Regions from separate parts of the Homo sapiens genome. Here region 1 is linked to region 2. A link means that fine-mapping ties the variant in region 2 to the expression of a gene that starts in the linked region. Tissue or cell type: whole blood. Region 2 holds a variant in brackets; the other region holds the start of a gene. All regions are shown on one strand. Distances are between the middles of the regions.

The links.
Region 1: it holds the start of TLR5, and the variant in region 2 is fine-mapped to the expression of TLR5 in whole blood (TOPMed, PIP above 0.99).

The regions. Positions count from the first base shown.
Region 1 is chr1:223,140,531-223,144,918 of GRCh38, reverse strand. TLR5 (toll like receptor 5) reads left to right here and starts at 1,671. Exons shown (of 6, transcript NM_003268.6): 1 at 1,671-1,723; 2 at 3,156-3,271. LOC124904522 (a long non-coding RNA gene) reads right to left here and starts at 1,564. Exons shown (of 2, transcript XR_007066895.1): 1 at 1,321-1,564. RefSeq lists a silencer at 1,513-1,882.
Region 2 is chr1:223,105,927-223,110,314 of GRCh38, reverse strand. It overlaps TLR5 (toll like receptor 5), which reads left to right. Exons shown (of 6, transcript NM_003268.6): 6 at 1-911. Among named protein-coding and RNA genes, the nearest start is that of TLR5, 35 kb to the left of the region's middle. The variant C/T (reference allele first, on the strand shown) is at 2,667.

The DNA of each region.
Region 1 (4,388 bases), 35 kb before region 2:
TGTTCCTGCTCAGCAAAAGCTTTGATCACCAGCCCCCTTCCCCTGAATATACTGGAGAAAAATAACAGAAGTGCATTTCAAGGTCCACATGTGAGAAGACCCTAAGCTGTCCTGGCTGTTCAGGTAGAAGTTGTCATCTTCCTCAATGATCTCGGCTGTTGGAAGACATGGCCAGGCAGACAGAATCTAAAAGTTCTTCCAGGTGTGACATGAGTCCCTGGAGCTCAGTGACAGAAACCAGTGTCCAAAACCAGATGCCACCCTGGGGAGGGGGCTTTGGGAGTTCCTGGGAGGCCATAACACCGTCTGGAAGGCTCCTCTCTCCCACATATTCACAAAGTTGCATGATAAGCCAGGCCCCTGCTGGTCTTGCAGCATCCACCTATGATGCAGAGTAAACAGTGCCACACGTCAAGCTGTCCCCAACCTTGCCCTCGGTTCCACTACCAAAAGAGGGAACACTGGGCTTGCCCCAGCAAGGTGTTATTTATGTCAGGCTAGGGCCACTGTGGCTCCCAGCTCTTACTGCTTTCTAGGTGCCCTTACAGACTTCCCCACTGCCCCCTGCATATGCCAGAGTGTGAACATCCCCTCCCTCTCCACAGCCCCCACAGTGGGGTTCGGGTGGGCAGGGAGGTGGTTTCATCCCTCTACATACAGCCCTTGGAGACCTACCTAGGCAATTTGTCACTCAGGCTTCAAGCTGCCAGCCGAGGAGGGGAGCTGAGAAGACTCTATAATGAGATCTTTGCACTGTAATTAAGTGCCAGGCTTTGTTTTACACCTATCTTTCCCGCCTTGCCCGATCCCACCGCCAAGCTCCTCCAGGCAGTGAGTGGGGAGTGTCAGCTGCTCTGTGATTACACCCCAAGTGGCAGGTGGCAGGGAGCTCCTCCGCCTGCAGTCTGCGCCCCACCCCCAGGCTTCCCCCACCACCAGTCTTAACTCAAGACAGTGCTATTTCTGTCCTTGAACTGGGTTTCACCCCAGAAAGCCACTCCACCGCTTTCTCATAAGGCTACCTCCTTTTAACCCTGTGGTTGCACGGCCTCTGGGGTGTCCATTTCTTTCTTTTGACACGTCCCTTTTCCTGAAAGTTTCAGCAAACCCCATAGGCAGAGGGAGTTAGAAAAAGGAAAAGAGAAGTTAGGGCAGGAGGAGCACTGTTCTTATAGGACAGGAAGGGTCTGTCTTCTCTCTTGGGTCCTCCACACAAAATCGGAGCTTCCAAACACCCCAGCTCCCAAACATATGCAGCAGATTCTGCTGACAGGAATGTGTCACTGTGATCTTCACATTTTAGCCTGAAGTTTAGCCTACCTGAAGAAGCACCGGAGTGGGAGTGGGAGAACATGGGATGGTGCTTCTCTTTGGCCTGGCTGTGCTTTTGGACACTTCAGGTCTTCGGCCTGGGTTTCCTCCTCCGTACGATGAGGAGAGGATGGGAGGGGGCAATGCTGGCATGTGTGATCTCGATAGACACTGTGGAAGTCTGCAGAGACCGGAGCATAACCTCTGCCTCCTCTCCCCGGGCCTAGCCTCTCACAGCCCTCAGAGAAAACCCTGAGCTGCGGCGTGGCCGAGACGGGGGCGTGGCCTGGCAGGTGGGCGGGCCCTTCCGTGGGCGGGGCCGCGAGGTTTTCAGGAGCCCGAGCGAGGGCGCCGCTTTTGCGTCCGGGAGGAGCCAACCGTGGCGCAGGCGGCGCGGGGAGGCGTCCCAGAGGTGAGCGCCCTGCAGCGGCAGGGGATGGGCCGGGGGCCCTAAGTCGTAGGCAGCGCGGGGCGGGGACGCGGCTGCCTGCGGAGGTCGGACTCCTCTCCGCCCTCCTCCCGGGCTGTCCGGGTCTATTTTCCAGTCTATGTCCAACTCGCGCCGCCTCACTAGGCGGCGCTCTCTGCCCCGCGGCACCCGCGAGACGTGGGGTCCCTCGGCCCAGGGACGGGGTGAGCGTGTCATGTGGGTGCCCTGTGCCCGGCAGGTTGGAGACGAAGAGACCTCGGCACAGACGAAGTCACTCACATCCTCGCTTTGAAACAGAGCGGGTCCTTCTTGTGCTGTCTCGCTGTCACTCTCGCCCCCACCCTGTGGAAGAGGCAGGTGGCTTGTCCCCAGTCACTTTCTTCCTTGGAAAAGGGAGACAGAGGGCCATCTCCAGCAGGGCCATGGAAATCCCAGAAAGTCACTGAGCTGCTCAACAAAAGGCCCTAAACACCCCACCCCACAGCACCAGGCAGTGCACACTGGCCAAGACTCCGTGGTAAATATTGCTGGCCTTTATGTTGAGAGGGGGAAAAAAAAGCCTGCCTGTGAAGATCATTGCCCAGTGGCCATGCTCCTGTGAAAACACAATTGGAAAGCCATTTCCTAAGGGGCGAGGGTGGGTCTGGGACCATGCTGTGGCTTGGGTGATTGGTGGTTGCAGGAGTGAGGGTGCTGCCCTGGGAAGGCGCTGAGGCCCTGTTGGGTGGGAATCGACGGCTGCGGCTTTCTCCCGGAGGAGGGAGAGCGGTGTTGTTACCTAGTGTTGGGAACACATCCGTCCAGCACCGTGAACTGCAAACAAGCAGAGTAACCCTAGTGTCCTTCAGATACTGTTGCTGAGCAGTCACCTAGTCAATGAGATGATCTGTTTGGACGGCAAGTGCATCTGTAATGCCGCCCTCTTGCTCAGTGCCTGGAAGAGGCATTGGTGACTCCCCGCTAATGCTAGGGGTAGCTACCGTGCAGGAGCAGTCAGGCTCTTGCAGGGCCAATGTGGTTTCATCAATTTTCTCCTGCATTTACCCAGCCCCTCCGAATTCTGAGAAGTGCGTCCAAGATCTCTTGGACTCCTTGACTCAGTTCACCCTTGTTCTTGTGGGCAGAAAACAATTCCCAGTGTGCCATGCACAGCCAGTCAGAAGGGAAGCCCTGGAGCAGGGCCCTGGGAGAAGTTCTGTGGGGCTGGATGCTAATTATTCAGTTACTGGATTGTGGGGAAATTCCAGGGGAGGTCCCAGAGGAGAGACCGTGCTAAAGCTAATTACTAAGCAGTACAAAAATAATCTCTCTCTCTCTCTTTCTCTCTCTCTCTCTCTCTCTCTCTCTCTCTCTCTATATATATATATATATATATATATATATATATATATATGTAATTTTTTTTTTGAGACAGTCTCACTCTGCCGCCCAGGCTGGACTGCAGTGACACAATCTCGGCTGACTGCAACCACTGCCTCCAGGGTTCAAGCGATTCTCTTGCCTCAGCCTCCCAAGTAGCTGGGATTACAGGTACCCACCACTACGCCTGTCTAATTTTTGTATTTTTAGTAGAAATGGGGTTTCACCATGTTGGTCGGGCTGATCTCAAACTCCTGACCTCAGGTGATCCGCCTGTCTTGGCCTCCCACAGTGCTGGCATTACAGGTGTGAGCCACTGTGCTGGGCCAAAAATAATCTAAATTTCAACAATCAGCATGACCATGCCTGTGCGTATGACCCTAATTATCAGTCTGACTGATTCTTCCTTCCAAAATGATGGCAGAGGATCACCTCTTTGGATATTTACAGCTCTGAGCAAAGCAAAAAGCATGTAGGTGCCATTGTCTGAATGCAAAACCAGCCATGCCAGGTTTTCGGTGTTGTTTCTGAGGAGGGAGCGCCTCTCTGGAGGACGGTGTTTCCAGAACAGTGCCTCCGTTGTTCATTCCCGTGCATCAGGAAGTTTGGCTCTGCTGAGTGTTGAAAGCAAAACTCTCCTGTTTATTTGTCTCTGTATACTAACAGACTTAAACAGCAGACAGCACTGGAATGTCCAGTTACTGCATCCAGATGTGTTTGTTTCACTCTTAACATTGTGGAAAAGAATGCAGAAGGCAGATCCAAAGCTTCAATCAGATTTCTGAAGCTTAAGTGATTCCCAGCCTTGGTCCCTTAATGTGAGAGCAACAGCGTATAGTGTCTTCCGCTCTCTGGGACAAACCCAAGTTTGAGGCATAGTCCCTGCTGTCCAAAAGCTCCTAGGTCTAAGTAGGAAGACAAAACCAGCACCTGTGAAACAATTAGAGCGCAATTAAGTGCGAAAGTATGTGGCAGCATCTGCTAGCTCAAAGAAGACAGCTAGTGCAGACTGACTGGGAAAGGAAGAGAGAGCTTCACAGAGCCAGCTGGTGTTCAGCTTGACTTAAGAATGACCATCAAGGGCTTGGCCAGGCCTAGGAAAGGAAGCATGAGGATATATGAAGCTCAGAATAATGAAAGGCACTTGCTGCCCAGAGCCAATTCAAATTCCTGCCTTCCGGGAATTCTGGCTGTGGGTCCTGCCACTCTCTTCCTCACCCAGCCATGATGCCCTTCTTATAGCATTCTAACCATGCCTTTTTTTTTTTTTTTGAGACAGAGTCTCACT
Region 2 (4,388 bases):
TTCGTATCAACACCATGTTCTGTCTCACTAACCTCCAAATGGAAAATAATAGATCTAGAAAATTGCAACTGCCCTTAGAGGTTTCCAGTCTCCATTGATTTTCTTTCAGATCCAATAATACCGTTCTGTCCTGCTGTGTTGATTATGGAATGTATCCTAATCATGGGAAGGGCACCTTGGGAGAAGTTGCAGATGGCTGACGTGCTTTCTCTAGCATTCAGCTAAAAAATGGGATGGTCCATGATTCTGCGTTCTCTGTGTTCTGCAAAACAACATTAAGTAGAAAACAAACAGAAGCAGAGGCACATTTCCTTCTTTTGCCACAGAAACAATGCCACTGTTGAGTGCAAGTCACACTTTGTCTCATAGATAAGAGGTGGCCCCAAAGAAGCTGGGATGAATGAGTCACTACCTGTCTTGTGACTGTACTGCACTTCATGTTCTTACCTTCGGCTTCTCCAGGTCTCGCCCTAGTGAGCCAAGAACTTTCTCTCACATGCTGCCTTTATTTAAGCCTGGCCTTCAAGACCTTCCATGATTTATCACCAACCTACCTTTTCAGCTTTGTTTCCTAGCACACCTCATTGATCAGCTGCTCAGGCTGTTGCATGAAGAACATGGACTTTGCACACAGATCCTGGGTTGAGTTCTGAGTCAGCTGTGTATTAGCCATGTAACCTTGGCCTTGGTATGCCCTTGCTGGACCTACATTTTCTCACGTAACAGCATCTATGTCATAGAATTCCTGTGAAAATTAAATTGGCCAAGGATGTCAGGGCTTCTCAGATCTTTTCCTTCGTTGCCCTAATGACCACAAGAGAACACATACACTGAAGGCCTCCTGGGGGGCAGTTGCAATTTCACTGAAGTTGTATTTTTTTATCTTAAATGAAATCTATGTGTATTTTCCATTCTGTTCTTTTTTTCATGTTTATTAATATAGAAATGTGTTTTTGCAAAAGGATTAAGAATACTTAAAACAAGGAAACTGTGCCAAAATTACCCCATAGCTTCACACACTGCCTCCTCCAAGTCCAGCGTAACTCCAGGTCAGCTCCTGCAGTTTGAGGGGTACACATGGGTCTGGGACTCAGCTCTCCAAACTGTCACCTTCTTCCCCTCACTGGGCCCCTCAATCCTGACTCCTCCAACACACACACGCGCGCACACACACACACACACACACATACACGCTATTCTCATCCCAACTTCTTTTGGCCACTTCTAATCAATGAGACCGAGCTTTCCCTGCACCCAGCGATGGCATTATTTTCACGCACACCATGCAGTCCCCACTGTACCTCTTTCCTCTGGATTCTTCTCCCATCTCTGCACATCCATCCTACGTTTTCTTCGTTTTCTTCAAAATCCAGCCCATGAAGCTCCCTGGGATCCCTAACCCAAAGTCCTCTCTCCCTTTTGTGAAAACTCTTGACACTTTATCTGGTCTTTTAAAAGTAGCACTTACTACTACTTCCTCTATCCTTTTTTCTGAGCCTGCCCGGCTGCCCGCCTCTCTGGAAGATAAGTTCCCTGAGGAAAGACCTTGTCTTCTGTGTCCTGCCCTCACTGGCTGTAGCAGATCACTTATGGTTTGGGGACCATTCAAGGGTTTCCCACTTACACATCTGCCCATGCTTCTTCCTCCCCATGGAATTTCTTCTCCCCATCCTACCACTCGTCTGCCTGATGAATTTCCTTGTTTAGCAAGACTGCCCATCCCTCATGACCCCAGTGACAGATTTTCTGTCACTGATACATGACATTGTGTTGCGCCAGTGTGTTTATGTATGTGTATGGACGGCTTAGTTTGTGAGACACTGCAGTCAGGATCTTGTCTTGTTCATCTGTGTATCGCAGGCCCAGTTTGTGCCTGGCCCACAGTATGTGCTTAGTAAATGTCTTGTGGATGAGTGAAGTATACTGGGAAGCCCAGCCTCCCTCATGGCAACACCTGCTGTTATTAGACTTTCCACTGGAGGGGCAGGGAGGATGAGGGCCTGAGAGAGCAAGATATCCATGGAGGTGCTGAGTGGTAAGCTGAAAAGGGCAGGAGACCACAGGCTGTCAGACACCCCTGAACACTATTTCAAATGGCCAGGCATGGCACAGGCCTCCTGGGTAGTGGGACAGTGGCAGCCTGGATTAGCAGCTAGGAACGGGGCTAGAATGGAGAGCTGAGGGGGTGGGGAGGAAAACAGAACCCACATGAATTTGCAGTGAATAAGGTCTCCTGGAACCCTGTGCTAAGAAATACAGTAAAACAGGGCCAGGCACTGGTGGCTCATGCCTGTAATCCCAGCACTTTGGGAGGCTAAGGTGGGCCAATCACTTGAGGTCAGGAGTTTGAGACCAGCCTGCCCAACATGGTGAAACCCCGTTTCTACTAAAAATACAAAAATTAGCTGGGTGTGGTGGTGCACACCTGTAATCCCAGCTACTAGGGAGGCTGAGGCAGGAGAATTCCTCGAACCCAAGAGGCGGAGATTGCAGTGAGCCAAGATGGCACTACTGCACTCCTGGGTGACAGAGCGAGATCCTAACTCAAAAAAAAAAAAAAAGAAGGAAGGAGACAAAACAAAAGTATACTGTGTCAGTAACAGGTATAACCGCAAATCAGGAAGACTGTGGAAAGACCACTCTGCTCGGTTTCATGCCCTCCTGTC[C/T]CACCTGCTGCTCAGCCATGGTTTTCCCCCAGCTCTAGGGGGTGGGAGGGGCACCCAGGACACTGAAGAAATCTCCTGGTCAGAACACCTTGTATGAACAGGACTCCTAGGGAAAGGGGTTTCCTAGTCCGGCTAGGGGTTGGAGGTAGTGCTACACCAGGGACCTCCCTTGGTTTGGGTGACCATCGCTATGACTCTGTTTTCCAAACCAAACCTGGGACATGTAAAATGACAAGTGCAGGTGTCTTTACAGGAAGAACAAGCTGAAACACAGATAACTCTCAACATAGGAAAGGAGTCTATCCCACAGCCTTTTCTAATCTTCTTATTTAAAAACACGAATTACAGGTAATTTTCCTAATGAAACACATTTAAAAGGCATCTTTTGTGGTCTCTGTATAGAGTGTATGGGGGACCTGTTCATGTCTACATCCTAGCCACTGTTAGTTTCAACATACCACTCTATTTCAAAACTTCCCTTTTCTGGCAAAGATCCAAAACTTACTAAAATTCTTTTGTCTTCTTTCCCATGGTCAGGCCCAGCAGTTGGAATTCTTTTTGAGGCCATTTTCCCAAGTCTTTATCACGTCACAAGACTTGCTGTGTACATGGCAAAAGGAAGGCCCAACGGAGCCACATTGGGAAGTGGGCCCTGGGGAGTCTGCTGAGACACTGGTTGCTAAGTGACTGCCCTGTCTTCCATGGCGCAGTGATTCAAAGCCAGGCCTCAGGAAATAGATAAATTCCACATAGCACAGACCTCTGGGGTCACTCCAAAATGGTGAGAAACTACCACAGTTCAATCTCAGAATGGCTAGAGCTTTCTGTAGTTGAAACTGCAACTATTCTGGAAAGATCTAGAATATTGACTAGAGCTGCTGAAAACTTCAAAGAGAATCCCACTCATGCCAAATACAACTGACTCTGAAAATCCCTTGCCAACCACGTGCACTTGCAGTGAAGAATGTTTTAGAGAGTCTTGATATTATGTAAAGCAAATGCGGTTTGAAGTTTTAAATCATGAAAGAACCACGTTAAGAGGACAAGAGACTGTGGAGTAAAAGTTTAAGATAGTTAAATGCTCATGTACCACAATGTAAAATTGATTACAAAAAAGTCTACAATATTAAATCAAGAAATAGTGTTCCAAATATATATATTTAGAAGTATGAAAATGCCAGAAGAAAGAACCATACAAATTAATGATGATTGCCTGAGGAAGTTCTGCCCAGTTCTTCCATTGGGAGCATCTAGAAAAGCTGGAGAAACTATTTTTTTAGAATCTATTTAAAGACACGGGAAAGTTGCAAGGTAGTAAATAGGGCCAAGAGGCAAGAGAAGAAGGAAATCGAGAAAGCTGACTACAATGCAATTAAGACCATCTATTACCAAAAAAAGACTATCAGTGAATGAAAAGGGAAACTTTAGCATGGAGGGAGATATTTGTAATACACGTATCCAAAAAGGACTCACAGGCAAAATCTAAAAGAACTTCTACAAATCAATAAGAAAAAGACTACAGAAAAGAAAAATGGACATGACACTTAAGAATTTCACAAAAGGCTATCCAATGTCCAATAAGGAAACGAAAAGATACTCAACCTCCTTTAGTGATCAGAGACACGCAAATTGATACAACATTGCAATCCCACTACCCACCCACCAGAATGGCTAAAATTAAGATGACTGACAGTACCAAGTATTGGCAAGGCTGGGGAGCAA